2 separate regions of the Homo sapiens genome follow, and region 2 is linked to region 1. The links come from fine-mapping of genetic effects on gene expression. Tissue or cell type: blood mononuclear cells. Region 1 holds a variant in brackets; the other region holds the start of a gene. All regions are shown on one strand. Distances are between the middles of the regions.

Region 1 (16,104 bases):
TCTACTCTACAAAATTTCCTCAAGTTTGTCTTCCAACTCTTTTATTGAGTTTGCATTTCTGCTGTCAGACTGTGTATTTATTTCCAAGAGCTCCATTTTATTTTGTGAATGTTCTTTTGTTGAGCATTCTGTTCTTGTCTCACAGACGCACCATTTTCTTTAGTCTCTGATGATATTTTGTTTTTGAAGTTTTCTTCTTCCTGCAGAGTCTCTGTGTCCTTCCAGTTACCTTTCCTGTTTGTGTATTTGTCCATCTCTCGTGTTAGGTTTCCCTTAAATGTTTGTGGCTCCTTGGCTGTGTCTTCAAGTTAAATGTGGGGCAGAAGAGAAGATGGTTGTGGATCTGTGTGGTGAGTGGGCTCTGCTGACTGATAATCCCAGTAGGATAATCCAATGGGAACTCAATATAGGTGTTTGTTCTCTAGAGCTAGTCTGGTTCTGCATAGAAAATGTTTTCATTCTCCTACCTAGCAAATGGACTCCTGATCACAGCCTTCTGATTGTGACCTGTCTTTTCTGTGGAAGCTTGTAGGGCGTACTCTTTGTCCTCAATGTTTCATGACATATATACCTCAGTGTAGTATTTCATGACAATATACCTCAGTGTAGGTCTCTTTTCATTCACTGTGCCGGGAAATTAATGGACCTTCTGAGATCCATGTGGGCAAGAGGGCAAAGGTGGGCAATCCAAAAATCTTCACTTACCGCCTCTGCTCCCAGGATGGCACCCTGTGCCTCAGCCAGGCATCAAGAGGCCCTCTGTCGTACTCCTTTCTGAGACTCTGCCTCTGGTTTTCTGCTGGGATGAGAGGAAACATTTTCTTGGCAGAAGTAGGAAGAGAATCTAGGGATCTTACTGCCTTTAGGCTGACTTGCAACAAGCCCTCCTCTTATTTCACTTCCAGAGATACCTGGTGTTGCCACCAATCCCAGAGCCTTTGGGGTTTTCTAGCACAAACCTGAGTGCCTGTTTGCTTGCATCATCATGGCTTAGGGTTCGGCTTTCTTGGCTTTGCTGAGTCAGCACTCCACATCTCTTTCCCAGCTGCCAAACTTTGTTACTATCATCTTCTTCCCTGGTTGTTCTATCTTTGTGGATTGATGCATTATTTAAAAAATTATACCGTTGTCTTAGTGGAGTTTCTGGGTGGAAATAGGGCTAGTGCATTCATTGAACTCACAATCTTTAACCACGATCTCTGGCTCTTCTGTTGGGTTCCCTGAGCCTCAACATCATCATCTGTAGAGTGGGACAAAAGATCCCTTTCCTGATGTCTGCCCAGGAGACTTTGTGAAGATTAGATGGGTTTTTGCATAAAGATTTACCATTCAAACAGCGGGATGTATGACTGTCTGTTCTAAGTGGTGCTTGGACTAAAGGATTGAGGGGTACCCTCTAGAGGCTGGGACTGGAGAAAAGGCCAGCCTGGGCTGCGGGATACTGTATCAGTTACAAACAACCACAGACCTCACTGGCATGCAGCAATAAGTGTTTAGGTAACTCAGGAGTCTTCAGAGTTCACCTGATCCAGGCTGGGCAGGCCAAACGACTGCCTACCTTTTTTTTTTTTTTTTTTTGAAACAGAGTTTTGCTCTTGTTGCCCAGGCTGGAGTGCAGTGGCACAATCTCGGCTCGCTGCAACCTCCGCCTCCCGGGTTCAAGCGATTCTCCTGCCTCAGCCTCCAGAGTAGCTGAGACTACAGGTGCACGCCACCACGCCCGGCTAATTTTTGTATTTTTAATAGAGATGGGGTTTCACCTTGTTGGCCAAGATGTTCTCGATCTCCTGATCTTGTGATCCGCCCACCTGGCCTCCCAAAGTCCTGGGATTACAGGCATGAGCCATCACGCCTAGCCTATGACTGCAGATCTTGACTGGGCTCACCCTTGTGCCTGGGGGCAGCTGACTGTCGGATGATCTAAGAGATCCTTGGCTTGGACAACTGGGCCAACTGAGCTCTGTTCCACGCATCTCTGCATCTCAGCTCTAGTTCATATGTATTCCCATGGAGGTGGCAAAAGGACAAGAAAGCAAGCAGAAACATGCAAGTGCTTTTTCAAGCCTCTGCGTGTGTCACATTTGCTCTCATTGGCTGAAGTTAGCCACACGTGTCTGAGCCCAGAGGAAGAGAGTGGGGAGAGGCATCCTACTCAGTGCAAAGGACATGAATGCAGGAAGGGGTAAGGAATTGGGACCATTGGTGCAAACTCTACCATGAGTGTCTAGGCATGGCTCCGGAACAGAGCACACCCCAGCCTCGATTATTTTCCTGCAAACACAGAATATTTTGCCTAAACAAGGAACCTGGGGTTCTGCCACCCTGATTTGCATTCAGTTAAAAGAGCTAATCCTTTACTTGCTACTGGAAGAAATGCTGCCCATCTCTAAAACAATCAGACATGATCTCTCTGATAGAGTAGTACACTCTCCAGGCCCAGGCTGGAGCTGTAGATCACAGGCAACCGATGAAATTTGCTTAATTATTTGATTCAATCAGAAGTTGGCTTAATTATTTTCTTGCTCTCACCTCTTTTGAATCCATTCTGGAAACTGATTATGTCTATAACACCAACCCAGAGATAAGCATTTCAATTGGGAAATGTAATTAGCCAAGGAAAATGAATGTGGGAGCTGCCTTTTGTCAAAGCACCATTAAAACCCAGCTCTGGTCAATACCAATGTGGTGTGAAGACAAAAGGCTCAGTTTGCTCCTCTTGTGACTGGAGAGGGAAGGCCCAGCAGGAGGTGGGAAAATAGGTATCTTGGGATCTTAGCAAAAGGAAGCTCATTAATTCATTCATTCAGAGGCTTTTCTAGGCCAGCTCTGGGATGGATGCTAGAGATGCAAAGGTGCACTGGCCACGTCCCTTGCCTCGAAAGAGTTCTCTTCTTAGAGGAGGGATTCACACGTAATTATGTGGTCAAAGTGCTACGGGAATACAGAGGAAGGAGCCACTGATTCTGCCTCTGGGAACTTCACAGAGCAGGTTACGTTGAGCTGGGCTTTGAAGAATAAGCTGGAGTCTCCCAGGTGAGGAGGGCATTCTAGGTAAAGGGCACAGCACGTGCAAGGGCATGGTGGCGTGAGAGTACAGGAGTACTTGTTAGGGGTCCACTAGAGCAAGCCTGCTGAGGGCTTCTTGGGTTATCCTAGCTCCTCCTAGAATAAAGTGTCCTTGGGCCATCCCACCTCAACTTTTCAGTGCCTGGGGATCCTGCCTCGCCTCCCACTTTGCCCTCTAGATGGCATTATTAAGGATTCTCTCCCAGTGTTTGTTTTAATGGAAGTCGAAGGCGTGTGGCATTTGAGGGAGACTGCGCCATCTGAAAGCCGGGGGCTGGGTTCAAGGCACCTGAGAACAACAGATGCACATGGTAGAGCTGAAGAATGAGAGGGTGCTCGGGGCAGAAGGTCCATCCTGGGCTGAGGCTCAGCGGTACGGCATGCTGAGCTGAGTGTGGCTGTGGCATGAAATGAAAGGTGAGGCTTTCATCTGAGTGAGCTGCCCAGCTGGGCATGGGCTGGATCACAAAGGGCCATTTACAGGCCATTGCAGACCAGCTCCTTGGCCTTGGCCTCTATGATGGGGGACTCTCTTAACACTGCTCCGACTGTAGCCCCTCTCCTGCAAGTCTTCACTTCTTCAAAAGAGGTCAGTGCTCAGAGCAGTGGTCTCTGGTTTGCTTGGATCTCTGCCTAAGGCAGAGCTTGTCTGGAATGCAGTGAGGTGGAGAGGTTATCTGACCAGGTGGCTCCTGCACCTGGGGAAAGGGAAAGGGAGGGAGGACCACCACGACCACGGTCTCCAGGGCCACGGCAAGGTAGACCCACCAAACCTCTGCCCAACTCGTTCCTATTTACCTTAACCCTTAGCCATCCTTACAAGGAAGAATTCAGCCAAGAGTGACCAGGCACTAATAGAAGCTGCCAGGCCCTGCCTCCCTCTGAGACACACAGCCACTGACTACCAGATCCCATCCAATGTCATCCATGTACACACACTTCGTAATGGGGTGTGGTGACCAGCATGTGTGCATTTTATACCCTGCTTTTTTGCTTGGTAGGATCTTGAAGCCTCATCATCTGCCTTCCCCAGGTGGGCCCCATCTCACCTGTGAGGCCGCTGGTGTGGGGAGAGAGCACAAGTACAGTAGGCATTCGGGCCATGGTTCCTGCTTATTTGCTGTGCAGCTTTGGACAAGCTTCTTAGCTTTCTGAGCCTCAGTTTTGTCATCTGGAAATGGAGATAATATAACCACCTACACTGCAGTATAATTATGAAGATTAAGAGTATAAAATTCTCAGCCAGGCATGATGGCTCACGTCTGTAATCCCATCACTGCGGGAGGCCAAGGTGGGAGGATCACTTAAGTTCAGGAGTGTGAGACCAACCTGGGCAATACAGTGAGACCTCATCTCTATTAAAAAAAAAAAAAAAAAGCCAACTGCGGTGGCATGTGTCTGTACTCCTAGCTATTCAGGAGGTTGAGGTGTGAGGATGGCTTGAACCTGGGAAGTGGAGGTTGCAGTGAGCTGAAAGTGCGCCACTGCATTCCAGCTTGGTTGACAGAGCAAGACCCTGTTTCCAAAAAAAAAAGTAAAATTCTTGGTTTAGGTTTTGGCATGAAGGCTGTATTAGACACATAACCATGATGATCATGGAGGCTGCTAGACCCAGCTCAGATTACTACCCAGTGGACTAGCTGGATGACCTTAGGCACTAGTCATTTAAATTCCTCCTCTGTGAACCGGGTTTAACAACACTGCTCAGGGTGGGGATAAGGAACAAACAGACTAAGTCCTGCCTGTGGATAGACTTTGGAAATGGATACTTCATGTCCTTGTCGTAGTCCAGGGCACTGGTGGTATTTCCTCTGCCAGGTGATTTGAGAACTCCTCACGGGTCCCCAGTGAGAGGCGGTGAGCGACTGTGTGAAGGAATGAGACAGCATGGGAGGTGGAGGAGGTTGGTGTCTGCACCCACCCTGCCCGAGAACGGGACAGTGGGGGATACGTGCAGGACAAAATGGCCTTGCCCCCGACTCCAGGCTCCAGAGGCTGGGGGTGAGCATTCTCTACCCCCATCCCAAAGCTATGGCAGAGGAACCCTGCAGCAAAAGGACACGGAGTGCCCATGGTATTCTGTGTGAAAGTCACTGAGGCCAGAGACAGCTCTTCACATCCTGTGTTGCTCAGGCCTTCCCCACCCTGTCCCCCTGTGGGGTCTCAGCCCCAGTTCTGGGCAGGGAGTGTGGGATGCTTAGGAGCGGGGTACAGGCTGAGCCTCAGCCACCCTCACGGGAATCCATCCTGGGCCCCTGGCCCTGGCCAGACAAGCTGGCAGATTGCCCAGCCACATCCAAAGGCAATGCATGCTCTGAGCACAGAGCCTGGCCGAGGACACCAGAGAGCAGGAGAGCGTGGGGGCCGTGCAGACACATGACAAGGCTTTGATAACACAGTCTACCTGCCATGTCTGAAAAATCAGGCGTGCGTCTTCCTGGCAGGGAATGCAGTTTCCTGTTAATGAGTTGTGAGAGGTTGGAACAAGTTATCAGAGAGAGGCTGGGAGGACTGCTTCCCGGGGCAGCTTCCAGGAGATGGAAGCCAGGCCCCAGCCTCCTCCCTTTGGGCGGCTCAGCTATTTGAGGAGCATCTCTCAAAGGGCTGAACTAAAGCCTGGAGTGAGAGTCCCCAGCCTAGGCCAGGACCTGCTGGTGGATCTTGAGCCCCTGCTGCGAGCTTCTCCGGGCCTTAGCTGCTGCACTCCCCTGCCTCAGCAGGGACTGGCCGGAGTCCCCTCCCCTCTGCAACCTCGGGTTCTCAGAGGGACCAAAGCCAGTAACCCCATGACAGACGGATCTCTGTGGTTCCTCGCTGCTTGCAAAGCACTCACACTTGTCATCGTATTAGGCACTCACAACAATCTGTTTGAGAGAAACAGGCTCAGGGAGGTGAAGTGCTCAAGGTCATTCTGCCTGGTGGGTCTGTTTAGGGTAATGCTGGCTGCTGTGACAGATAAACCCAGAGACTTCAGTGCTTGGAGACAACAGACATTTCTTTCTTGCTCATGTAAAGTCATATTGATGGTGGGGAGAGCTCTGTTCCCTCTGATGACTCAGGCACTCAGGGTGATGGAGGCGCCATCATCTTCAGGTTGTAACACCCAAGATTGCCTCGGCCTTGGAATATCCATGAATGGTTTTTATGGGCCAGGCCTCAAAGTGGTGTATGGAGCCTATGCCCACACCCCATTGGGTCCTGCGGCTCCACCTAGATGCAGAAAGGCTGGGAAACGCAGTGCCTGCCTGGGCGGCTATTTCCCTTCAACGGCTCTGTCTAAGGAAGGGGAACTGGTGCAGAATCGTTGCTGGCACAGTAGAGGATATTACCCTCAAATAAAGGCTGGGGACCCCTAGTGAGAGTTTGGTCACCTAGGCGTCAACAAGTGCCCAGTGTGGTCTGAGACCTGGAAGAAGACTCGCTGTGTGGCTCTGACCCCAGAAGGATTCTGGATCTCCAAATGCTGTTCCAGCCTTCTCGGCAGCCTCTTGCCCCTTCGTTAGCTTCTAATGTACATGGTTTGCTCATGGCCCAGCCCTGAGACACCCCTCTGTGGCTCCTCATGGCCCTCAACATAGAGACCAAACCCCTTGGCCTGCATTTGAAGTCTTTCCCAGGATGGCTCCAGCTGACTGGCCACATTGCTCCCCTTATTCCCTCCCCCGAAACCTATGCTCCTCCCTGACCAGCTTCCTACCTCAGGGCCTTTGCACATGCTGTGCTCTCTGCCTGGAATGTCCCCCCTGTTGCTCTCCACCCTGCGGGTTCCTGCTCATCCTTCCCGATCCATCACAGGTCCATGAGGCTTCCTGAGCAGAGTTAGCCACTCGGCCAGCATTTATTGAGAGCTTACTGTGTACCAGGCACTGCAATAAAAGCTTCCCAGGAATTAACTCATTGAGCTCCCAAGCCTACAAGGCAGGCGTCCCATTTTCTTTTTCTTCTTTTTTTTTTTTTTGAGATGGTGTCTCGCTCTGTTGCCCAGGCTGGAGTGCAATGATGTGATCTAGTTCTGTCACCCAGGCTGGAGTGCAATGGCATGATCTCGGCTCACTGCAACCTCTGCCTCCAGGGTTCAAGCAATTCTCCTGCCTCAGCCTCCCGAGTAGCTGGGACTACAGGCGCCCACCACCACGCCCAGCTAATTTTTATATTTTTAATAGAGACAGGGTGTCACCATGTTGGCCAGGATAGTCTCCATCTCTTGACCTCATGATCTGCCCACCTCGGTCTCCCAAAGTGTTGGGATTACAGGCATGAGCCCCCGTGCCTGGCCAGGCATCCCATTTTCTAGATGAGGAACCCAGGTCTGTGAGGAGTGTGTGTGAGGTCACACAGCTGCAGAGTGGCAAAGTCAAATTCCAAACCCAGGTCCCCGTGGCTCACAGCCAGGCCTTAACAGCTGCATAAACTTCCACCTATTCTTAGCACCTGTCACAAGGCTTCATAATCATTCATTTACTTGCTGTTTTGCTGGGAAATTGCTTACTGTCTTTCTGAGAAAGCAGCTGCAGCCTCCGTAAGGACAGAGGTCAGGCCTGATGCATCCTAGAATCTTCCTCACCACTGTCCCCACCAGCACCAAGGCCAAGGTCTGGGTGGTGATTTCCTCTCAGATAAATCCCTTACCCTTTGAGAACCAGAAAGAGAAATTCCTCAGATTATGGTCTGTCATAATCCCCTCCCTGCTTCCCTGTCAGTTTTTGACAGTTACCCTGAAACCGTTTTAAAATGATCTCAGAGGCAGAGACTGGCCTTCTCCACGCATGATTAAGCACGATGGCTTTTTAATGATTTGAGCTGTGCCTTCTGTGAATTGACAAAAATGGATTACCATATATTTCTGAAAGCCACACTGCCAAAATCAGATTTTTTTTTTTTTTTAGTTTTCTCAGCCATCCTCGAAAACCTTAGCTGAGAATGACAAATACTAGGGGCTTTAATTGTTCAGTCACATGAGGGTGGTGCCTCCTGAGTTCTGAGAACTGCTCTCGCCAGGAAAGCCTTGAAATGCTCCTGGGCTTCGATCTTTAGGAAATTGAACTGTGTGTTTTCTCTGAAGCGGAGAGCTGTCTCCTGGGCCGTGGCACGTTTGCTGCATTTGTGAATTGTTTGGGCACTGAGGTCTGAAACAGAGGCAGTTCTTGCCCCAGAAGCATGCTCAGGGCTGTCACGACTGGATGAGGCCTGGCTTGGCTGTGGGTGGGTGGACAGGGCAAGCGGGGAGGGGGTTCTCCCTGTGTGGGCACTTCCTCCTCCTTTTCACTCTCCTGCCAGACTCTGTTCATGGAGTCCTGCACCCTTCACCTGATTCAGGCCACCCACATCTGCGACAGGGTTATTGCTAGTACCTTGGACAGATGCAGACTCGCTGCTGGCTCAGAGAGGTTA[A/C]GTCATTTGGCTGTGGTCACAGGCTGGTAAGCCACAGAGCCAAGGCACATGGTTTGACCACAAGCCTGTGCTTCCCCCACAATCGCTGCTGCTTTAAAAAAATCAAATGAGGCCAGGCCTGGTGGCTCATGCCTGTAATCCCAGCACTTTGGGAGGTCGAGGTGGACAGACCGCCTGAGCCCAGGAGTTTGAGACCAGCCTGGGCAACATGGCGAAACCCCGTCTGTACAAAAAAATTAGCCAGGCGTGGTGGCATGCTCATGTAGTCCAGCTACTCAGGAGGCTGAGGTGGGAGGATCACGTGAGCCCAGGGAAGTCAAGGCTGCAGTGAGCTGTGATCGTGCCACTGCACTGCAGCTTGGACAACAGAGTGAGACCCTGACTCAAAAAATAACAATAATCATCATCATCGTCATCATCATCATCATCATCATCATCATCATCATCAAATGAGAGGCAACTCATAGGTATCCTCTGTAGTCCATTTACATTTAAGGAAAACAAACCTCATTGTGTATCCACTAGCATCAGTGGCTTCAGTCGTCTACATTATCTGCATTTCACAGAGGAGGATGTTGAGGCTCATGAGATAAGGTAGCTGACCAGAAGTCACACAGCTAGTAATAGGACAATTATGATTTTATTCTAAGTCTACCTGATTCCAAAGTTTCTGCCCTACTCTGTCCTTTGTAGGAATCTGTCTCAGGCTCCTTCCTCCCTCTCTAACACAGGTAAGTCTGGCAAGGGGAAGCCTGAGTGGCTTCTGTGAGGTTCTGGAAGGGGCCTGTGGACCAAAGAAAAGGGAGGCCCTTGGTCTATAGGAGTGTGGGCTGGTCTCCTCTTTACTGATGCTGGGAGTAAACCAGATGGATTCGTCATGGCCTGATGGAGAGAAGGCCACCTGTCTGGCCTGTGGTCATGTGTGCTCTCGGCTCCTGCTCTGTTCTATGTCAGGGTTAATTTACTATATATTTACTCCAAACCTACCATGCACCTGGCATCACACTAGGCTCTTTGGTGGCTCCAAAGATGCATCTGGCAGGATCTCTTCCTTCCAGGGCTACCATCTGTCAGAGAAAAAGACCAACTCAGACCCTCCTATGAGTGAGCCTGGGCCAGGGGATCAGTGGTGGGGCCCAGAATGGTGTAGGTAAGAAGAGCCATCCCTCGAGGGCATCTGGGGGGGCTCCTGCAGAGGGTGCCCAGGCTCCTAGGGAGAGGCGGCAGCTCTCTGCAAGGTAGTGCCTGCTGCAGGGGGGCCTTGCTCCAGCCCAGAGGTGGGAGATAGGGTCAGGCTAAGCCACAGGCCTTCAGGAGGTAGCCTGTGGTCTCAAAGCCAAGAGTACTTCCCTGGGACCTTCTTGGACCCTCCAAACCAGGCCCAGTCTCCCAAGTTGTGCAGGAATGGAATGGCACAGCAGTGAAGGGCAGAGCAACCAGGGAAGATGGCCAGAGTTGAGTCCTGGCTCCCTGTTCATCAGCCCTGGGAGGTTTAGATGATTCTCTAAGCCTCAGTTTCCCCATCTGTAAAACAGGGGCAGGAATTGCACCCTCCTCCTCAGGTGTTGTGAGACTTAAAAGAGGTGCTGTCTGTGGTGCGCTCAGCAACATGGTGTCGGCCTTCACGCAGGTTTGCGTCTGCGGCGTCCGGCATTTTGCATGATCTCTAGCCCTCAGGATGGTTTGCAAGGTGGAGGTCTTGCTCCCACTGTGGAGGATGAGGAAACTGAGGCAGCTAGTAAGTGGTGGATCCAAGCGTGGGTTTCCAGGACTCAACCCATTCTGCTGGCCCACTGCCTGCAGCTAAGCTATCCCAGCAACTACAAAGACCCTCCCTGGGGCTCAGCTCCCTACCAGGCTCTCCTGGCACTGCCTCTGCTATCTCTTAATGTTTTACAGGGGTGAATGGGACCTCTTTGATTTCCTTTCTTTTCTCCTTTCCAATAATCATCATTAATCTTGTTATCAGAGCCATGCATCTGCACCTCTTGGCTGTGGTCCACAGGCCGTGTTTGCCATGATCAATGCATAGCTCTGTGTGGCCACAATGTATACCCAAGACAGCACTGCAACCCTGTGTCCGTGGGCCTGGGAGGCTCTGGCACTGTCAAAGACAGCTGGAGGCTCCCCCAGGAGCTGAGGTGAGGCACCTGGCTCACATGCCCTGTGGTCTTGTTGAATTCTTGTTCCTGGACTGGTAAACAGCTACCCCCACAGCTGGGGAGCATCTCCAGCTGCCTTCACAGGGTCTCAAAGCACAGACCCAGGTGCTCCTGCCCCCGTCCTCCTCATCCGTAAGTGCCTAGAGGACAATTCACCAAACCAAGATGGGTAGCTCTGGAGTCCCGTTGGGCCCAGCCACTCATCATACAGCAGCCAGTCAGATCCAGTTCCTAAGCCATCCAGACCCCCTTTCTTGAAGCCCCAGGGCCATGTGTGATCTGGCCTCCACCCCCTCACTGCCCACTACTTTCCCCCTTTCCCGCTGCACACAACCTTTATCTTGGGATTTTCAATGTGCTGTGCATTCTGCCCGCCGTGCCCTTGGCCCCTTTCTCCTGGGCCTCCTTCAAGCCTCTGCCCGAACGCTGCCCATCTCCTGGCTGTGCTCCCCCGCCACACCTAAATGGAGCTCCTCCTTAGCCACTCTGTTTTTCTGCATCACACACGTTACATTTAGATGTGTCTCTGTGTGTCTTTCCCCTCATTCCACTAGGCTCCAGTGCCAGGCACACCCCGAGTACCCAAAAAATACATTTGGGATGAATGAATGAATGAATCTTGAACAAGTGACTTAATTCCTCTAAGCCTCAATCTTCGTCTGTAAGAGGGGGACAATGAGTTTTTATTTTGTTTATTTATTTATTTATTATTTTTATTTTTATTTTTTTTTGAGACGGAGTCTTTCTCTGTCGCCCAGGCTGGAGTGCAGTGGTGTGATCTTGGCTTGCTGCAAGCTCCGCCTCCCGTGCTCACGCCATTCTCCTGCCTCTGCCTCCTGAGTAGCTGGGACTACAGGCGCCCGCCACCACGCCCGGCTAATTTTTTATATTTTTAGTAGAGATGGGGTTTCACCGTGTTAGCCAGGATGGTCTTGATCTCCTGACCTCGTGATCCGCCCACCTCGGCCTCCCAAGGTGCTGGGATTACAGGCGTGAGCCACTGCGCCCAGCCGAGCTTTTATTTTTTTGATTTTTAATTTATTTTAATTTATTTATTTTTGAGACAGAGTCTCTCTCTGTCACCCAGGCTGGAGTGCAGTAGCGCAATCACGGCTCACTGCAACCTCCACCTCATGGGTTCAAGCGATTCTCATGCCACACCCTCCTAAGTAGCTAGGACTACAGGTGTGCACCACCATGCCCAGCTGACTTTTGTATTTTTAGTAGAGATGGGGTTTCACCATGTTGGCCAGGCTGGTCTCGAACTCCTGGCCTCAAATGATCCACCCACCTCAGCCTTTCAAAGTACTGGGATTACTGGCATGAGCCACTGCACCTGGCCCAATGATAGAGTTTTTAAAAGATGGATGTGAAACAAACAGCACAGTGCCAGGCAAAAAAGGATTGTTCTTAACTTCTGATAAGGAAGGGTTGGCTGGCATTTAGAATTCCACATTCCACAAGAAGCTTTTGTGGGGGTGTCCACCCTGGGCTAGGATCTCAGAGCCTCATGGAGTCAGTGTCTGGCTCCCAGCACCTCACACCACAGAGGAATTGCCTCTGGCCAGGGCACTGGCTGTCTAGGTGGCCTCCTCACATAGAGGCAGTGCAGGGAGGGTGTCCAATCCTTCACTCCGCAGATCCCAAAGGCACCTTGACCCTGCAGGGTCTGTGTAGGCTTAAATCAACCAGGCTTAGATCTAGCCATGAAGACACTCCCTGCCTGGAATGGACTTGAGAAAAGGACACAAATTACTGTAATAGAAGTTGAGAAACAATGCCTTTGATATAAACGTTCAGAGGAGAAAAACCTCAGATCCACGTGGGAGAGTCAGGGATGTCTTCACGGAGGAAGAAACATTTTATCTAGAAGTTAAAGTAGACATTGGATTGAGACGTGTGGGGACATTGTGTGTTAGAAGAGGGCATGCCAGGTAGAGAAAACAGCTTGAAGAAAGGGCTGGAGGCTGGAGAGAGTGGGCCACATGGAAGCAGTAGTTTGCCTAGAATGTGGAACACATGAAAAGACGATTAAGACATAGGCGGCCAGTCGCGGTGGCTCACGCCTGTTATCCCAGGCCTGTCTCGTGGGAGACCGAGACAGGTGGATCACTTGAGGCCAGGAGTTTGAGACAAGCCTGGCCAACATGGCGAATCCCCACCTCTGCCAAAAACACAAAAATTAGCCGGGCATGCTGACGCATGCCTGTAATCCCAGCTACTTGGGAGGCTGAGGCAATGAGAATCACTTGAACCCAGGAGGTGGAGATTGCAGTGAGCAGAGATCACACCACTGCACTCCATCCTGTGTGACAGAGCGAGACTGTGTCTCAAAATGTGTATGTATGTATGTGTATGTATATATATATGTGTGTATCTATATATGTGTATGTATATATGTGTGTATATGTGTGTATGTATGTGTGTGTATATATATGTGTATGTATATGTGTATGTATATATGTATATATATGACATAGGACTGTAAGAACATTGTATCAGTCATCTATTTCCATAATAGGGTTGTATTATAACAAAGTATTCCACAGTGAGAGGCAGACCACAGTGTTGTTTGTGACTGCAGATAGGCTGGAATTTGGTTTATCTAGGCTGCATCTAGCTAGATCCAAGTCTGCTCTGCACATATCTCATCCTTCCTGGACCAGTGGCCATTTGAGGTTCATTCTTCTCATGGTGAAGGGTGGGAGCCTAACGGAGCAAGCCCAGCCATGCAAGCATGTTTCAGATCATGTCCTCTAATCCCTGTGGCAAGTCTCATGGCCAAACGTAAGATCAAGGGCAGAGTTTAATTCCCCACCCACTATGAAGCCAAAGCAAGTTACATGGAAAAGCACAAGGTTAATGGGATAGGGATATTTACTCCTCCCAAGGAGGGAGAGGGAAGGAGTGAAGATTTGTTGAACAACCATCTAATTTCCCCAGGCAAGTAGAGGCCAGAGTGTGAAGGGTCTCTGTGTCTGCTGTTAGGAGCTGACCAGAGCAGTAGCTGGACTTTGATGTCTGGTGGGATGAGCGGCAAAGGGCTCTGATTTTTGCCCTTCTCCCCATTGAGGCAAAGAGAGTACTGCAGTCCTATTGGGTAGTTAAAATGCCCCAGTCCCTGCCCAGCTCTGTCCTGACTTCCCCATGGCTCACACTTTCTGCTTGCCTGGCACAAAGGTAGTACCTTCTCTGCTGGGCCAATCATCTGCCAGGGCTCTTAGCTTTGCCAAGCCTGAGGGTGACTTTCTCTGCTGGAACTGAACCTTGTGATAACAGCCCCATGCATTGAGTACCTACTGGTATGCTGGGTGTGTCATATTCTCCTGTAGTGAGTGCCTGCTGAGTGCTGGACAGTGTATGGGGGTTCTTTATATGTATTCTTCCAAACTCATCACCATACCACCCTAAAAGGGAGACCTCATTGTCCCATTTTACTTTGTTTAATTTTTGTTTTTGCAGCAGGGTCTTGCTCTGTCGCCCAGGCTGGAGTGCAGTGGCGCCATCACAGCTCACTGCAGCCTCTACCTCCTGGGCTCAAGCAATCTTCCCACCTCAGCCTCCCAAGTAGCTGGGGCCACAGGCACATGCCCCTATGTCTGGCAAATTTTTGCATTTTTTGTAGAGACAGGGTTTTGCCATGTCGCCTAAGCTGGTCTTGAACTCCCGGGCTCAAGCGATCCACCTACCTAAGCCTCCCAAAGTGTTGTAATTACATGCCTGAGCCACTGCACCCCGGCTCATTATCCCATTTCACTGAGGGTGCAAGAGGTCAAGTCAGTTGCCCAAGCTCACACAGCAAGGATGGATGAGGCTGAGATCAGAACCGGGTCTGTTTGGCTTCAAAGCCCACGCTGTCTTCCCTATCCAGGCCTCGCAGGAAACATAAAGTTCACGTGCTCTGGAAGGTGGCTTCTGGTCACAGCTCTGCCCTGAGTTTTGTGACTTTGGAGATATCACTCCAGAATTCTGGGCTTCAGTTTTGAGATGAAAGCAGTTCAGAGCTTGCTCTACAGCACGGTCAGAGGGAGTTTTTAAACACAGGTTTCCAGATCAGACAGCACCCTCAGCTCTTATTTAAAAACAAACATTAACATTTTACAAACACACCCTGTTTTCCAATGAGGAGCTGTGTCCAGCAGACTGCTTCAGTGAACTGTGTCCAGCCACTTGTCACAGGGAACCTTCTCCAGCCATTGGCTGCAGTAATCATTCTCCAGCCAGCTGTGGCAGCAAAGCGTGGCATCTGCTCAGGAAGGGTGGAGGAAGCCATTAGTTCCACCAGGGCCCTGACGTCTGTGGCTGCCCATTTCGCCCCCCCGACAGGGATTTCCTTGGTAGCTGGCCACTACTGTGTGTGCTGTGTCTTCTCCGAGTCCCAGGGGCCTGGTAAAGTGTTGGAGAGCCCCAAGAAAGAGCTGTTGGCATTTCCAATCGCCATTCATTCATTCATTCAACAACCACTCGTTTCTGCCTTCTCTGTGCCCAGCCTGAGGATGGATGCTGGGGCCACTGGGAAATGTTAGACCCAGCCACTGCACCCTGGGATTCACAGGCACCTATGCAGAGACATACAATATCGTGTACACAGTGCTGGGACAAAGTCACATGCAGCAGAGTTGGTGGGCATCAATGGGCATGGTCAGTTCTGCTTGGTGGCTCAGGAACGTCTTGGGAAAAGGCTGAATGTATGAGCCAAGGCCAGAAAGATGAGTAGGTGTTTACCGAGCCATCTCTGCAAAGGAAGGCATCCCAGGCAGAGGGACCCATATCAGCAGGCACGCCAGGGAGTCTGAGGAGCTGCTGGTGGTCTGATGTGGGTCAAGCATCACTTTGCAAAGAGAGCAGGACAAGAGGTGAGGCTGGAGAACTTGCCACGGCTGGGACCATGGGTTCTGCACGCTGTGTCCAGGAGTTTGAACTTGGAGAACTGAGGCAGGGGTGAGGTTGAGGGCTGTTAAACAGGGCGGTGATGTGATCATTATGCTCATCTTTCATGTATCAGCCTCCAGTAAGAGCATTCTATTGGGTTCCAGGAAGAATCCCTAAAAAATATCTTTCCTTCCAGAGGCTTCAAGAAACCTTTGCCTGGAAATATTCAGCCTCAGAGCACAGTGCTATGTCACCCAGGAAATAGCTATCATGGGAAAATTCAAGGAAAATATTCCTGCTCAAGGAAAAAAAATTAAAACACGACACACGAGAAACAGACCAGATAGAAATGGAGAGGTCCCAGTCCGTAAATGGGTTTTATGCCGCCAGAAGACCTCATCATATTAGACGATCTGGTTTTAAACAATAAACTTTGGGTAATGGGGATGTCACTTTAATTCATCTTCCTAAAAAACCCATGTGGCAAAAACATTCCAGTTGCTATTGCTACATTGCAAATTACTCCAAAACTTGGGGGCTTAAAACAATTATTTTATTATGCTCACAGATTGAGTGGGTCAGTAATTCAGAAAGGGCACAACAGGGGACAGCT
Region 2 (16,104 bases), 71 kb after region 1:
AGTGAGCTATGATCATGCCATAGCACTGCAGCCAGGGCAACAGAGTGAGACCCCATCTCAAAATAAAATAGGCTGGGTATAGTGGCTCACAACCATAATCCCAGCACTTTCGGAGGCCGAGGTGGGCGGATCACCTGAGGTCAGGAGTTAGAGACCAGCCTGGCCAACATGGTGAAACCCCATCTCTACTAAACATACAAAAATTAGCCGGGTGTGGTGGCAGGCGCCTGTAATCCCAGCTACTCGGGAGGCTGAGGTGGGAGGCTCTCTTGAGCCCAGGAGGCAGAGGTAAGAGGATCAGTTGAGCCTGGGAGGCAGAGATTGCAGTGAGCTGAAGTTGCACCACTGTACTCCAGCCAGGGTGACAGTGAGACCTTGTCTCAAAAAAAAAAAAAAATCCTCTGCATTTTCTGTCTTAATTTATATGATACAACTTATAACCACTTAGCTCCTGTCTAATAAGGATGCTCACACTTTCTTGTCTGGTCATTATGAAGCCCTCTTGTACCCATTTGTGGTAAAAAAAAAAAAAACCTCTGAAGTGCACAACCAAGATCAGAGATGATGAAATAAAGCCTCTCAGATGCAAGCTGAGCTATGCCTCTCCCTTGTTTGGGTGACTAGCTCATCCCAGTTAGGGCTTTCTTGCTTGTAGGACCGAATATCCCACATCCTCGGTGCTCCATCAGTGTCAGTCCTGAGCAGACCAGGGTGGCTGACCCCCCAGCACGGTTCCCTCCTTGGCCCTGGACCCAGTTCAAAACACACAAGACAAGTGGAACAGAATTCAGGCCAGATCATCCGGTACCATCTGCCTGTGCCTGACACTCACCGTTGGAAAGGCCCCGAATGTCAAACTCTTTTTTGTGGCTTGTGTGTGGAACTTGGCCGTCTTTACATTTTCTCCCTCAAAATCACTGGAGAGCTGGTAAAAATGTCCCTCTTTCCCCCAACCAACTGGGGGTTGGCCCCAAGCATTGGTCTCCTTCAAAGGCCCCAGGTGACTAGTGGGCAGCCAGGCTGGGTAACCAGGACCTCTGCACTCGTGATGCTGAGACTAAATCTGTCCATCTGGCAAAGTCCCGGGGGCATTTACTGACCCCGGGAAACAAATCTCTCTCCCAGCCTGGACAGTACGAGAGCCAAGCCAAGCCTGTCATGACCTCTAACGTTAATCTATTTTTTGGCTAATCACAGCCACAGCTCCATGCCTGTAAATCCAGCCAAAGCCACTCAACATTCCAAGACACGGCGGCATCTGTGGCCACATAGGCCAAAGGCGGCTTCTCTTCTCTCTCTTCAATGATCTCATTGAATCTTGTGGCTTTAAGTGCCATTTTTAGACTGGCAACTCCCAGATTTATAATCCACGCCCCCCTTCCCTACCGTTCATAGCCCCATAGTCATACACACACAACTGCCTCCTTGACACCTCCGTGAGGGTGACTCTCAGGCATCTTTTTTTTTTTTTTTGAGCTGGAGTCTCCCTCTATCACCAGGCTGGAGTGCAGTGGTGTGATCTTGGCTCACTGCAACCTCAGCCTTCCAGGTTCAAGCGATTCTCCTGCCTCAGCCTCCCGAGTAGCTGGGACTACAGGCGTGCGCCACCACGCCCAGCTAATTTTTTGTATTTTTAGTAAAGATGGGGTTTCACCATGTTGGCCAGGATGGTCTCGACCTCCTGACCTCATGATCCGCCCACCCCAGCATCCCAAAGTGCTGGGATTATAGGCGTGAGCCACCACGCCCAGCCAGCTCTCAGGCATCTTAACCTGGCAGACTGGACCAAGCCTTCTCCCCAGCCGGGGTCCCTCCAGGGTGCCTCATCTCAGGATGGTGCCACCAGCTACCCAAGCTCAACCCATGGCTGATGCTGGTCTTTCCTCTTGCCGTCCACTTCTGACCCATCCGCAAATCCTGTCTGTGGCTCTGCTACACTCATATATCTTGTCCACGCCTGCCCAATCCCTGCCATCTTATGTCTGGGCGACTGCATTAGCCTCCTGTCTCCCTCCTTCCTCTGTCCATCCCCTAACTCTATTCTCTACCCAGAAACCAGAAAGATCTTTAAACAAACATCAAAACCAAGAGGCTTTACTGGGATATCATTTACATGCCATAAAATCCACCCACTTCAAAGATGGACAATTCATGTTTTTTTAGTATATCACAGAATTGTGCAAGCATCATTATAATCTAATTTTAGAACATTTTATCACCCCAGAAGAAACTTTGTACCCATTAGCAGTTACTCCCCAGCCCCCTCCTCCCGGTCTCCCACTATAGCCCCAGGCAACTGCTAATTTAGTTTCTGTCTCTCTGGATCTGTGGATTCTGGACATTTCACTGAATGAATCACACAAGCCGTGGTCTTTGTGTTTGGCTTTTTCCACCCAGCTTAAAGTTGCTAAGGTTTATTATTGCCCACTAATACTTATCAAATGGATACACCGCATTGTTTATCCATTCATTGCTGGAAATTTGGGTTGTTTCTGCATCTGGGCTATGAGAAAGGTCTTTTAAAAAACAAGTCACCAGCCGAGTGCGGTGGCTCACTCCTGTAATCCCAGCACTTTGGGAGGCCGAGGTAGGCGGATCACTTGAGGTCAGGAGTTTGAGCCCAGCTTGGCCAATATGGTGAAACCCTGTCTCTACTAAAAATACAAAAAGTAGCCAGGCTCGGTGGCCGGCACCTGTAATCCCAGCTACTCTGGAGGCTGAGGCAGGAGAATTGCTTGAATCCGGGAGGCGGAGGTTTCAGTGAGCCTAGATCGCGCCACTACACTCCAGCCTGAGCGACAAGAGCAAGATTCCATCTCAAAAACAAACAAACTAACAAAAAACCAAGTCACACATTGTCACCACCCTGCTTAACACCTTATAATGGTTTCACATCATATCTAGAATGAAGTTTGACCAAGTGCCGTGACTCACACCTGTGGTCCCAGCTACTTGATAGTCTGGGGTGGAAGGATGCTTTGAGCCCAGGAGTTCAACGTTGCAGTGAACTGAGATCGTGCCACTGCACTGCAGCCTGGGGGACAGAGTGAGACCCTGTCTCAATAAATAAATTGAATGAAGTTTGTTGCCGAGGCCTGCAAGATTCCGACGTCCTGTCCCAGCCTCTGTCACCAAGCTTTTCTCTTCCCATAACTCACTCTGCCTTCTGTGTGTCTCCTGGACATACCAAGCTTGTTTCCACCCCAGGCCTTTGCACCGGCTCTCCCCTCTTCTCCGTGCCTGGGACGCTCCTTCCTCGATTCTTCTCATAGCTGGCTGCTTCTTCCCGTTCCAGGCGCAGTGTATGTGTCACCTCCCAGCTACGGTGCTGATGCCTGCCTGTGGCACTGTGCCACAGTGCCCTGTCTCACTCCTTCACACTTACCTTTCTCTGAAATTACCTTGTGTGTCTGTCATTTCCTTCCTCCGAGTAGAATATTCAGCCCCCACAGAGGAAGTGCCTTGCCCGTCTTCTATAATACTGTGTTCCCAGGGCTGAGAACAGTCCCTGGCACACAGCAGGTATTTAGTTTGCGGAGAGGCCCACGTGGTCCGGGCATGCTTAAGCAACTCCTGCAGTGGCACCTGTTTCCCCCAAGTGATCCTTTGTTCTCAAATGTTGGTCCTATTATTGGCTGCCAAGATGTTAGGGTTGGGTTTGGGGAAAATCACTTGCCTCTCTAGGGTCCCAGATGAAGAGAAGAAACACAAAAAACAAAGCCAAATGGCCCTCTTCCTGGCTCACTGTCGCCGGTGAAACTGGAATGGAAAATCCTAATTTGATTTGATTCCCTGGAGGGCAGCAGCGCCCCCTGCGGGAAGAAGGCCTTTCCTGGTGAGTTTACCCCAAAGAGACAGGAAGCAGAAGAGAGGATGCTACTAGGAGGCAGGCAGGGATGTGTGTGTGTGTGTGTGTGCGCGCGCGCGCGTGTGCGTGTGTGTGTGCGCGCGTGTGTGTGCGCGCGTGTGTGTGTGTGTGTAGGAGAGAGAAAGAGAGAGAGACACACACACATCAGGGGTGTGTGTGTGTGTAGGAGAGAGAGAGAGACACCAGGATTCGAGGCAGTGACCCTGCCCCTACTTAAATGTGGCTGCAGGCAGGTCAGGCTCCCTCCTCTTCTCATGGGTGGATGGAGTGGCCTGGAGTGCTTACACCAACACCCTCTGCGCAGGGAGGTGGGTGTGGGTGCCCCCAGGCAGAAGCTGGGACCCAGTAGGGAGTCTGAAGGGTGCTGCAGTGGCTGAATGTCCCTCTCTTCTGATGCCTCCACATTGTCTCAGTGGTAAAGTCCAGGCTTTTCACAAGCTGGCCAGCGTGCCAGCCCAACCTTCCTGCCTCCTCCTCCTCCCTCTTCACACTTCCCCCCCGGGTCCCTCTGCTCAAATCCACTGGACTATATTCTCGAGACGCTACGGATACTCCATCGAGTTTCACATCACTGGGCCTTCACCTCTGCTGTTCCCACCCTCTGGAATGATCTTCCTGGGTGCTATGCCTGGTGAGCTCCTGAAGTCAAGGTCTGGCCAGACCTCTGCTCTGGGAAGCCTCTTCTGAGCCCTCCTGATAGTCAGGGGGACCCTCCTCTGTGCACACCCCTCTCAGAGCACTTACCCCTCGAGAGGAGGGTTGCAGTATCCATTGACTCATCTGGAAGAGCAGAGACTGTTTTGTTTTCTGATGGACACCCAATCGCCAGGACACGGCATAGTAGCCCTTCAATACATGTGTTGGAAGGATGAATGAGCGAGTGCCCACTAACCTCCGAGACCCTCATGGACGTGGCCAGTGCGTCACTCACCTTGCTGTGGTTCCCATTGGCTGCCAGTTCCCAAGTGTCACCCTTGCCCACTGGGAGGCAATAGCAAGGTGCCAAAGAGATCCTGCAGGGCTGCCCCAGCCAGAACCACCCACTAGGCCCTATCTCTCACGGCCTTGCCCTGCCGGGGATCTTGGTTTGGGACAAGCCCTTCTGGGAAGGGCGCCCTCCAGTGGGAAACCAGCCCTGCTCCACTGCCAGTCCCAGAGCTGACACCTCCCAGAGCTGACATCTCCCAGAGCTGGGCCCAAGATTGATCCTTTTCACAGAGGCACACTGATCTGACCTGATTGTCATTAACCCACCCCCACTGTGCGCCTTCCCGAGCTTCTAGAATCATCCCCCAAGTCCCGCAAGCCCCAGAAACCCATTTCTTCAGCACTGGGCAGCAGAGACCAGTGGGGTATCTGTATCTTTAAGAAAAAGCAAGTGTAATAAATAAAAGTTATCTGGGAAAGAAAACTTCCTTTGTTTATTTTCCAGAAGCCTTAGCTCATCAATCTTCCCCTCCTAACCTGCTTTGTGCTCTACTAGTTTTGCTTCCAATAGAATAGAATTTGGTTTTCTAGTATCATGTATCGTACACAGGGTGTCCCCAAACAGTAGCAATAATGAGTTGAAAGTGGCACAGTTGGAAGCCTTCAGAAGCCAACGCCAGATGTCAGGCTCTCAGTGGGTCCCTCTAAGGACACTGGGGCCAGAGCACAGGGCAAGGGTTGGGTGGGCCCACAACTCTGGAAGGTCCCTGGGAGTCATTCATCTGACAGACACTGAGGAGTGCCCACGATGTGCCACGCCCTGTGTGGGCTCTGGGAAGGCCTCACCTGGTGCTGCCATGGCTGGCCACCAAAGAAGAACAGGATGGGCAGTGGAGGCAGGACCCCACCCCCAACTCAGTCGACCGGGTCATCCCGTGGGAAGCCTGGGAGGCAGGATGGCAGGAGATTTGGACCCATAGACCTGGGTGCCAGAGGTCAGGCTTCTTCATTTGAAAACCAGGGAAGCAGTCTCTACCTCACAAGGTGGCTTGAGAACAGAGTGAGAGAATGTGTAAATCACCCCACCTGAAGTCCAGCACATGGGCAGAGCTCAGCATCCTTTGGATCCCTCAGGCCTGACAGGTGCCCCTGCGCTGGGGGGGTTGGTGGGGCTCTGCAAAGGCAGGCACTGCTCACCTCTGGGCTCAGAATTCTTGTCTAGAGGCTTCTGCAGCTGCCACCCTCGCCTGAGAAAATGCAGGTAGAGACATCTAGAGCCACCCCATGGTAACTGGGGGCTTTGAAAGAATGGAAGAGAGCCCCAAGGAACCAAGGTCCTGGGGATTGACAGGCATGAAAATATGTCCTCAACACCACCCACCCCTATTTCCAAGGCCCTCCTCCAAGCATGCCGCATGCTGTTCTCCAGAAAAGCCAGGGCCTCTGGTAGCTCCAGCTGCTGAGGGGCTGGAGCCTCGCCTTCCCCTCACCAGACCAGAGCCCGGAGGGTGGGGGTTGGGGGGCTCTTTTAACTCCTTGGTGGAGATGAGGAAATTTGGGCCCAGGGAAGTGCAGGTTCAGAGCTGCACCTGCTGTGCCTGGAACAAGGCCAATCCCCATAACCCATGCATCTGCGGAGGTGGCCCCCCAACTGCACATGAGGGGAACAGGGGCTGGGCTTTCTTTTTAATTTGTCTTGCTCTAGATGACAGAGGAACTTTTAGAAAACTGGTGGGATAAGGATGGACGGATGCCCCTCAGCAGTCTCTGGCCTCGTGCCCGGCTGCCAGCAGAGGAGGACACGAGGCCTCAGAGGCCCCCGACGCCCCTTCTCCAGGAAAGCACAGGGTGTGTGGCTTCTCCCCAGCCCCTTCTTTGTCCCAGTCCCCAGTCTGGAATCGCTCTCTGGGCTGGGCCAGGCAAGTGGGCCGCAGAGGCCTGGCTTAGCTTTGGGAACGGAAGCACGGGAAGGGGCGCGGAGAGGCAGGAAGCGGCCTGGGGAGGCTGGGGTGGCCGGGACTACGGACCCGACCGCATAGACGCGATCAGCCCCTCTTGGCGTTCCGGTGTAGCTGACCCCGCCCCGGGCTCTGGCCGGGCTGCGAAGCCGGGAACCAGCGACCCCCCGCCCAGCCCCTGCGGCCGCCCCGCCCCTCCCCGCCCCGGCCGCCCCGCCCCCGGCCCCGCCCCGCTCTTTCGCTTCCCGGGCCGCCGGCAGCCGCCGCCAGCCGCAGCCATGGGCCGGGCCCGGCCGGGCCAACGCGGGCCGCCCAGCCCCGGCCCCGCCGCGCAGCCTCCCGCGCCACCGCGCCGCCGCGCCCGTTCCCTGGCGCTGCTCGGAGCCCTGCTGGCCGCCGCCGCTGCCGCCGCCGTCCGGGTCTGCGCCCGCCACGCCGAGGCCCAGGCGGCCGCGCGGCAGGTCCGGGCCCGAGCTGGCTGGGGCGGGAGCGCGGGAGCGGGGACTGAAGGACCCAGCCTCGGCAGCAGGGGGGACATGGGCATGGACGAGTCGGGGGAGGCGGAGGGCGGAGGGGGACTGGACGGGAGGGAGCACGGGAAGGAGGGGACACGGGAGGCGGGTGGGGGGTGCCTGGGGCCGGGCTGATGGGGGGAAGGCGAACGGAGGCCAGTGTGGGGCTGGGACAGACTGGAGGGGTCTCTATCCAGAGGGGTGACCTGGACACAGTGAAGCTGGTTCCCGCAGAGTCTTAAAGGGTTACTGGGGAGCCCTGGGACAGTGAGGAGGGGACACAGGAGAGGACAGAAGGTGCAGGAGGAACAGGGCCAAGCAGCCAGGGCCAGGCGGAAGGCGGAGTGGGGACAAACTGGGAGGGGGCAGTCGGACCAGACAGTGGATGAGCAGGGACCAGGAGGGACTGGAGGCTCTGGGGCAGTTCAGAGGCAACATTTGCACAGATGGACCGGGAGGCACTGGGAGAGCTCAGGAAGATGGTGGGAGAAGGGGCTCCATGCGGAAGCAACTGCCTGTTGGGGACCAGGAGACCAGGCCGCCAAATGGTGCCCAGCCCAGTCTCTCCTCCCAAGCAGGAACTGGCGCTGAAGACCCTGGGGACAGATGGCCTTTTTCTCTTTTCCTCCTTGGACACTGACGGGGATATGTACATCAGCCCTGAGGAGTTCAAACCCATTGCTGAGAAGCTAACAGGTACCAGGAGAGACTGGCGGCTGGGGAGGAGGGCGCCTTGGCCAACGGTGTCTTCACTGAGCAGGAGCGGCCGTCTGGAGTGGAGGGAAGCTCGTGGGATCTCAGAGGCCCTGGACTCCTCCCAGCTCTGACACTTTGTAGCTGGTGGCTTGGGCGAGCTGCTCCAGCAACCCCTGAGCCTGTTTTTCTCAGACTTGTGAGCAATAATACCAGCTAACATTCTTTGGTCTGCGAGGTAGCTCACGCCTGTAATCCCAACACTTTGGGAGATGGAAGGATCGCTTGAGCCCAGGAGTTCAAGACCAGCCTGGTCAACATGGCAAAACCCCATCCCTACAAAAATACAAAAATTAGCCGGGTGTGGTGGTGCACACCTGTAGTCCCAGCTACTTGGGAGGCTGAGGTGGGAGGATCACTAGAGGCCATGAGGCAGAGGTTGCAGTGAGTTGACATCACACCACTGCACTCCAGCCTGGGCGACAGAGTGAGACCCTGTCTCAAAACAAACAAACAAAGCAAAACCAAAAAAACAAAAAAACCATTCCTTGGCCACCTCCTCCGTGCCAGGTATTTAAGTATTTCATGTGGGTTCTCTCTTTAAACCTCACAGTAGCCCTGGGAGATGGACACTGTCATGATCCCCATGTTTAATAGTCTGAGAGACTAAGGCACAGGCAGGCTCCCCAGTTTCCCAAGCTAGAAAGGTGCGGAGCCAGGGCTAGAACTGGGGCCATCTGGCTTCAGGGTCCTGCACCAGCTCACAGGTTTCAGTAGAGAAAAGAAATGCACAGTGACGAATATGCAGTAGATTTCCAATAGACAGCAGCTATAACTTTTTTTTTTTTTTTGAGACAGGGTCTTGTTCTGTCACCCAGACTGGAGTGCAGTGGTGCAGTCACAGCTCACTGCAGCCTCAACTTCCCTGGCTCAATTGATCCTCCTGCCTCAGCCTCCTGAGTAAGTGGGACCACAGGCATGTGCTACCACGCCCAGCTGATTTTTCTATTTTTGTAGAGATGCAGTCTCACTACGTTGCCTAGGCTGGTCTCAAATTCCTGGGCTCAAACGATCCTCTTACCTTGGCCTCCCAAAGTGCTGGAATTACAGGTGTGAACCACCGCACCCAGCCAGGAGCTATAACTATCATTACTAAATCTGAAACTTTGCTTAGGTGCTTTCAGATTTCTATTCCATTCTTTGTTGTTGTTGTTGTTGAGATGGAGTCTTCCTCTGTCACCTAGACTGGAGTGCAGTGACATAATCTCAGCTCACTGCAGCTTCTGCCTCCCTGGTTCAAGCAATTCCCCTGCCTCAGCCTTCCCAGGAGCTGGGATTACAGGCACCTACCACCATGCCGGGCTGATTTTGTATTTTTAGTAGAGACGGGGTTTTGCCTTGTTAGCTAGGCTGGTCTCGAACTCCTGACCTCAAGAGATCTGCCCGCCTCAGCCTCCCAAAGTGCTGGGATTACAGGCGTGAGCCACTGTGCCCGGCCTCCTATTCCATTCTTGCTATCATTTTTGCCTAGTGCAGTCAGTGATTATTTATTTATTTATTTGGTTAAAGATGAGGGGCTGAAACATTCTAATGAATTATAAAACGCTTCTCTCGCTGCCCCACCACCACCCTAACCTCTGTGCCCATTTTCTTCCAACTTCTTGTGACGTTTCTTGAACTTAGGATCTTGGACACCTACTTATTACCCAGATTGCCTGGTGTAAGTCAGTCATTGATGGGAAAGGCAAGAGAGACATGCTGGCTGTTTCGGGTGCATAAGCTTCAAAGCGCTGTCACTAGCCTGCTGTTTTTCAGGGGTGTATTGTGTAGGTTGGTTCCGTGCTGGCCCGGTGACCTGTGATCACTGCTAGAGGAGGAAGGTTGGATGAAAAATGCTAATGAGCTGGAGTGGATGTGTATCAATGTCTCTCAGTGGCAGGCAGTTCTGTCATGAAAGCAGATGGGCAGATAAACAGGTCGTCCCCTTGTGGCCTTGCCTGTACTTCTTGTTTTGCATACACTTCTGCGCATTTGCACAGCTACCTCTTTGTCCTTTTTTGTGGCCAGAGTGAGAGTTCTCTCATAATGACATGTTAGCAAAGCTTGAGGTGCACTTTTAATTTTTTGCACAGAAATCTTTTTCTCCATCAGGGTAAAAGAATTCCCCCATTACCTCTAGGCTGTGAATGCAAAAATGGACCAAGTATTGAGAAATCAAAGGGCAGGGGGAATCAAATCCAAGCAGGAAATAGAGCCAACTAGTTCTATTTGGTAGAGTTATGAGAGTGTTTAATTTTCTGCCTTATCCCTTAAAATTTTTACAAATTACCTATAATGGGCAAATGTTACTCATAAGTCAGGAAATAAAACTTTTTATTAAAAAGCCAAAGGGCTGTAAAATGCTGAGTAGTAGTATTATAATTAATAACATTATTACCAACTCCATTTGACAAATGAGAAAGCAAAGGCTCAGAGAGGTGAAGTCCCTTCCCCAGATCATACAGCTAGGTGGTGGGGGCATCATCATTATTATTGGTTTTTGTTTTTTTTGTTTTTTTGTTTTTTTTTTTGAGATGGAGTCTTGCTCTGTCACCCAGGCTGGAGTGCTCGGCTCACTGCAACCTCTGCCTCCCAGGTTCAAGCAATTCTCCTGTCTCAGCCTCCAGAGTAGCTGGGCTGGGATTACAGGGGTGCACCACCATGCCCAGCTAATTTTGGCATTTTTAGTAGAGACGGGGTTTCATCATGTTGGCCAAGCTGGTCTCAAACTCCTAACCTCAGGTGATCCGCCTGCTTCGGCTTCCCAAAGTGCTGGGATTACAGGCATGAGCTGCCTTGGGAATCATTATTATTAATATTTATCTGTGATATCAGTAAAATAATTGAATAAGCAAGGCTTACTAATAACCCTGCATATTCCTGTTGCTCCCTTCTTCTTGGGTTTCTAGATTGCGTTTTGGAAAGTTTTACCTCATTGACTTACAAATACAGAAATAAGTGATTCTTCAGAATAGGGATTTGGATCAGGAGCAGCAGGGAGTGCTCATTAAAAGGGCAGATTCCAGACTCTCACCCCTGCAGATTCTCATTCAGTAGGTCTGAGGTGGGTTGTGAGCATCTGTAGTTTAAAGGCATCCTGGGTGATTTTGAGGACTTCTGGTTGAGAACTGCTTTAATGCATCATTCAGCCTGCTAGCCAGTCAGTCAGCAAATGCCAGGCATCATCTCTGTACCACTACCCTGCCCTGAGAGGGCAGACAGGGCAAGACCCACCCCCGCCCTCCGCTGGCTACACTTTGTTACTGGTGACTATTACTCACCCCTTTTGAAATAGGCGTCATTTGTCCCTTAGCCTTTCAAAATGAATCCTTCTATACTGGGAAGGTTATAGACTTGCCAGATCTCTGAGCAGGAAAAGATCCAAGAAATCAAATCCAGCCACACTGCCAGTCCAGCCCCTCCTACAGCTGGGGCAATGCCCCCCCCGCCCCCCCCCCCCCGCCGCAAAAAAAAAAAAAGCAGGGGAAAGTGGGTCTCCTCACTCTCAAACCAGTGCTCTCCCTATGACACCAAAGAGCCTGTTTCTGTTTCTTGCTTCATTCATTACTCCGGTTCCCTTGACTGAGTTCCTCTCAGTCCCAGAAGACCTAGAAAAGGGTCGTGGTTGGTCATGGGTTTCGAGTAAACAGGCCTGGGTTTCAATCCCGATTCCCCCACCATCTAGCTATGTGACCTGGGGAAGTGACTTTACCTCTCTGAACACTTTCTCATTTGTCAAATGGAGTTGGTAATGTTATTATCTGCCTCCCTGGGCTATCCTGAAACTAAAATGCGATACACTGGTTGTTACTTTGGTGACTGTTAACACCCCAGCTACCCCCACCCCCTGCCTGGCTCCGTTAATCACCAGCTAGTGTGGATGATGAGGGAGAGGTGAGCCCTGTAGCATAAGGGCAGTGCCTCTCCGATGTCTGTGTCTCATAGGGTCAACTCCCGCGGCCAGCTGCGAGGAGGAGGAGTTGCCCCCTGACCCTAGCGAGGAGACGCTCACCATAGAAGCCCGATTCCAGCCTCTGCTCCCGGAGACCATGACCAAGAGCAAAGATGGCTTCCTAGGGGTGAGTTGGGGACCACAGGCAGTGGGGTCATCTGTGTGTATCCCGAAGATGAGTTTCTGCTCCATTCATCCATCTTTCCTCTGCCCTCTGTGTGCCCACTAGAGCCAGGCCCTGGAGGTCCATGTGCGGTGATGTTGTCCCTGCTGTCCAGGCATACAGCCTGCTGGGGGAGCAGGAGAGAGAAGCATTAGCTTCTGCCCCAGACTGGGGAATCTGGGATAGCTTCCTAGAGGAAGTGACATCTGGTAGACTGCAGGATGAGGAGGGCTCAGCAGGGTGACTGAGCACAGGTTGGGGGGGTCTCGGAGGAAGCAGCAGTGCAGTAGAGACCCTGTTAGTGCAGCCGCCCCACATACTATGATGATTATTTCCCACACACTATGATGATTACTTCCCACACATCCATCTCTTCCCCACGGGGCATAGCATGATGCCTGGCTCCTGATAGGTACTCTGTTGAACTCTGATGATCTAGACCTGAGGTTTGGTCCCCAGCAGAGGGCTGTGGGGTGGGGAGGGCACCTGAGAAGGTGGAGGTAGGAGGTGGACAGATGCTCTCCTTGCCAGCCCCTCCCCAACCCAAGGCCCTTTGGACAGGGTCCTGAGCGCATTGCAGGATGAAGCTGCCTCAGCCCCTGCCTGCCCTTTTGCACTCTCTCCCACTCTCTCCTCCCCTCTGTGGGCTTCCTCTGTTCCAACCACACCAGACTTCCTTCCTTCCAAATCCCCAGGCTTTCTTCCAACTGGGAGCCTTCTCACATGTGGTTCCCTCTGCCAGGAACACTGCCTCTCTGTGCCCAGCCCACACAGCCCGACCCAGCCTTTTCATCTCAGCCAATGCCACTTCAGCACGAACAGAGGCCTGAAGGCAGGAGTGCCAGGCTGGTCACTGAGGCCAGGCAGTGGGTGTGTCTGGGCCCAGGGGGCATGCAGGACCCACACAGGGGCATCCCAATCAGTGGGGCCAGGAGAGAAGGTGCCAGACCCCACCAAGGGCTTTGTTGCCTGCCTTTGGCCTTCATTCTATGGTGGCTGAATATCGTGCAGATTTTAAATAAGACAGCTTTCTCATCAGACCTGGGCTCTCCAGGCCAGGGACGGGGCATGTGTAGAATGGGGAGAAGTGGGAGGCAAGAAGACCAGTTCTGGAGGGGAGACGGAGGAGATGGAGAGTAAGGGCAGCCTGGAGGATGCTGGGGAAGGAAGGGCAGGGAGCGGCTCCTCATGGACAGTGGGTGGGCAGGAGTTGGATGACTCAGGCTTCTGGCTGTGACCAGGGGCATGGTGGGCTGCTTGCCCAGATGGGGACTGTAGGCGGGGAGGGAGTAGGGGATAGAGAATGAGGTCAGTCTGCACATGTTGAAGTTGAGGTCCCCAGGGGATGTTGGATGTCTGCTGCCCAGCAGCAGCCCCTTGGCAGTGCCCAACTCTAGAGCCTGGCAGCCACATGGCAAAAGAAACTTGGGAATGACCTTGAGGCTGGCACCTGTGGCGGAATTGCCACCTGGCCCAGCCCAGGGAAGCAGTGCTGGGGAGCCCCTTTCTTTTTTTTTTTTTTTTTTTTGGGACGGAGTCTCGCTCTGTCGCCCAGGCTGGAGTGCAGTGGCGCGATCTCTGCTCACTGCAAGCTCCGCCTCCCGGGTTCAAGCTATTCTCCTGCTTCAGCCTCCCGAGTAGCTGGGACTACAGGTGCCCACCACCACACCCGGCTAATTTCTTTGTATTTTTAGTAGAGACGGGGTTTCACCATGTTGACCAGGATGGTTTCAATCTCCTGACCTCGTGATCCACCTGCCTCGGCCTCCCGAATTATAGGCGTACAGGGATTATAGGGATTACAGGTGTGAGCCACCATGCCCGGCCGGGAGCCCCTTTCTTAACCTCATCGCTGCAGGTTCAGGGAGGGACAGAAATTCCAAGGAGGAGCTCACAGGGAAGGGCATTGCCCGTTTTGGGTCCTGTTTACTTGCCGTCTCCCACTATAAGCTCCAAGAAGACAGGGTGCACAGTGTACCCTGATAGAAACTTCCTATACAGTAGGTGCATAAAACATTTTGTGGAATGAACAAATGAATAAACGTGTTCTTCTCAGCCAAGGAGACAGTGCAGCAGATAGGCAGGAGTCCAGGAAGTGGTCAAAACCGGTCTGACCTTCCACAAAAGGAGATGGGGAACCCATCTCCATGGATTTGGCAGTGATGGGCTGGTCTGAGCAGATAAGTCCGCACAGACAACAAGAACTGGGGTGAGGCAGGAGCAGCACCCCTAGCCCTGGCCCCCGAGCAGAGCCCCAGCAAGCCCAGCACCCATCGCTGGCAGGTCCCCTGCAGGGGGTGGCAAGCCTACAAGCAGGACCCAGGAAGGCGGGCTCGGCCTGGCCCGGCACAGCCAGCTCTGCCTTGAGAACCGCCTGTTAAATCTGTCTCTGTGGGAGCTCCCTGCCTGCTTTCCTCCTACCTCCCACCAAGCCTGAGCTCCTGCTGCCAGGGAGGTGGCGACAGAAGAGGGAATCTGCTGTTCCCCAAATGCTGGCCGACGTGTAGACAGCTCTGTGGTCTCTGAGCGTCCTCTCCGAGCCATCAGCTTGTCAGACAGAGGCGAGGCAGGTCACCGATGAGGACTCGGGCTTAGGGAAGGCCTTTTGCCCAGGGTGGGGCAGGCTGTACTTAAGGCAGGGCCCTTCTGGGGGTGGCCTTCCTTCCCCTTCCCTGTGGTCTCATCCTGCTCTTGACCCTAGAGATTTCACCTCAAACATGATTGGCCACCACCCTCATCGGACTTAGCTCCAAACCGAAACCCTGAGCTGGCCAGTGGGACATTAGTCCCTGGGAGGAGACTTGGAGAGGAGACTGGGGAGGGAGAGTAGGGCTGCTGGAGGGCCAGGGAAGCCAGGCAGGGTGGTGGCACCCAAGGCTGGCCCATGGGCTTATGCATAGGATGGAGGTGGGACTATGTGAGGCACAGAGCCCCACCATCCCCATTCCAACCTTGCCCTCGAGCGAGCTGCTCTGGCCTGGGCTGCGCCTGGGTGGGCTGTGCCTGGGTGGGCTGTGCCTGGGTGGGCTGTGCCTGGGTGGGCTGTGCCTGGGTGGGCTGCAGAGGCACTGCAGCAGGGAGAGGAGCCTCTCTCTGGCGGGATATTGCTAAGCTTGTGGCCATCATAAGGGCAGGAACCTCCCTGGGGTCCATCTGCTCCCTTGGTGTGGGCTGGCTCGGGGCTTGAGGGAGACCTCCACCCACATGGTACAGGAGACCCCGGAGTCAGGTTCTCAGATTCCTGGAGCTTTGCTTTCCCCCGCCCCAGGTCTCCCGCCTCGCCCTGTCCGGCCTCCGAAACTGGACAGCCGCCGCCTCACCAAGTGCAGTGTTTGCCACCCGCCACTTCCAGCCCTTCCTTCCCCCGCCAGGCCAGGAGCTGGGTGAGCCCTGGTGGATCATCCCCAGTGAGCTGAGCATGTTCACTGGCTACCTGTCCAACAACCGCTTCTATCCACCGCCGCCCAAGGGCAAGGAGGTGAGGACAGCTGGGGTGCGACGTGGGGCCCCTCCGCCCGAGCCCAGGAGTGGCCACCCCTCTGTCTGCGCCTGGACCCCAGTGCCAGGCCTGCTCCACCTGCTCTCCTGCCTTCCTCTGGACCTGCCCCCTCCCCATGGGGCCCCTGGGCCGTCGGGTCTGGGCTGACCCCCACCCCAGCGGATCCAGGCCCAGCGGGACCCAGCAAGCCAGTACGTGCCTCCCGCCGCCCCCAGGTCATCATCCACCGGCTCCTGAGCATGTTCCACCCTCGGCCCTTTGTGAAGACCCGCTTTGCCCCTCAGGGAGCTGTGGCCTGCCTGACTGCCATCAGCGACTTCTACTACACTGTGATGTTCCGGTGAGTGGGCCACACTGGCTGGCCTGGAGCACCGGGGAGGCATGACGGTACAGCGCCCAGAGGGGAGGGCCCAGCTTGAGCCCCCCAGCTCCACCTCTCCTCCCACTGCCGTCTTGGGCAAGCAGCTTTGGCTCTCTGAGCCTCAGTTTTCTC

The links. PIP is the estimated chance that this variant, and not a neighbour inherited with it, causes the effect.
Region 2: it holds the start of SELENON, and the variant in region 1 is fine-mapped to the expression of SELENON in blood mononuclear cells (TOPMed, PIP above 0.99). The same link has a PIP of 0.9 or more in whole blood.

What each region holds. Positions count from the first base shown.
Region 1 is chr1:25,722,468-25,738,571 of GRCh38, forward strand. The region is part of intron 2 of MAN1C1 (mannosidase alpha class 1C member 1); the gene reads left to right. Among named protein-coding and RNA genes, the nearest start is that of SELENON, 70 kb to the right of the region's middle. RefSeq lists a silencer at 897-1,097 and enhancers at 1,729-2,229, 2,315-2,958. The variant A/C (reference allele first, on the strand shown) is at 8,458.
Region 2 is chr1:25,793,200-25,809,303 of GRCh38, forward strand. SELENON (selenoprotein N) reads left to right here and starts at 6,994. Exons shown (of 12, transcript NM_206926.2): 1 at 6,994-7,214; 2 at 7,844-7,961; 3 at 11,943-12,076; 4 at 15,381-15,590; 5 at 15,827-15,951. The coding sequence starts at 7,032. RefSeq lists an enhancer at 6,188-6,909 and a silencer at 6,719-6,858.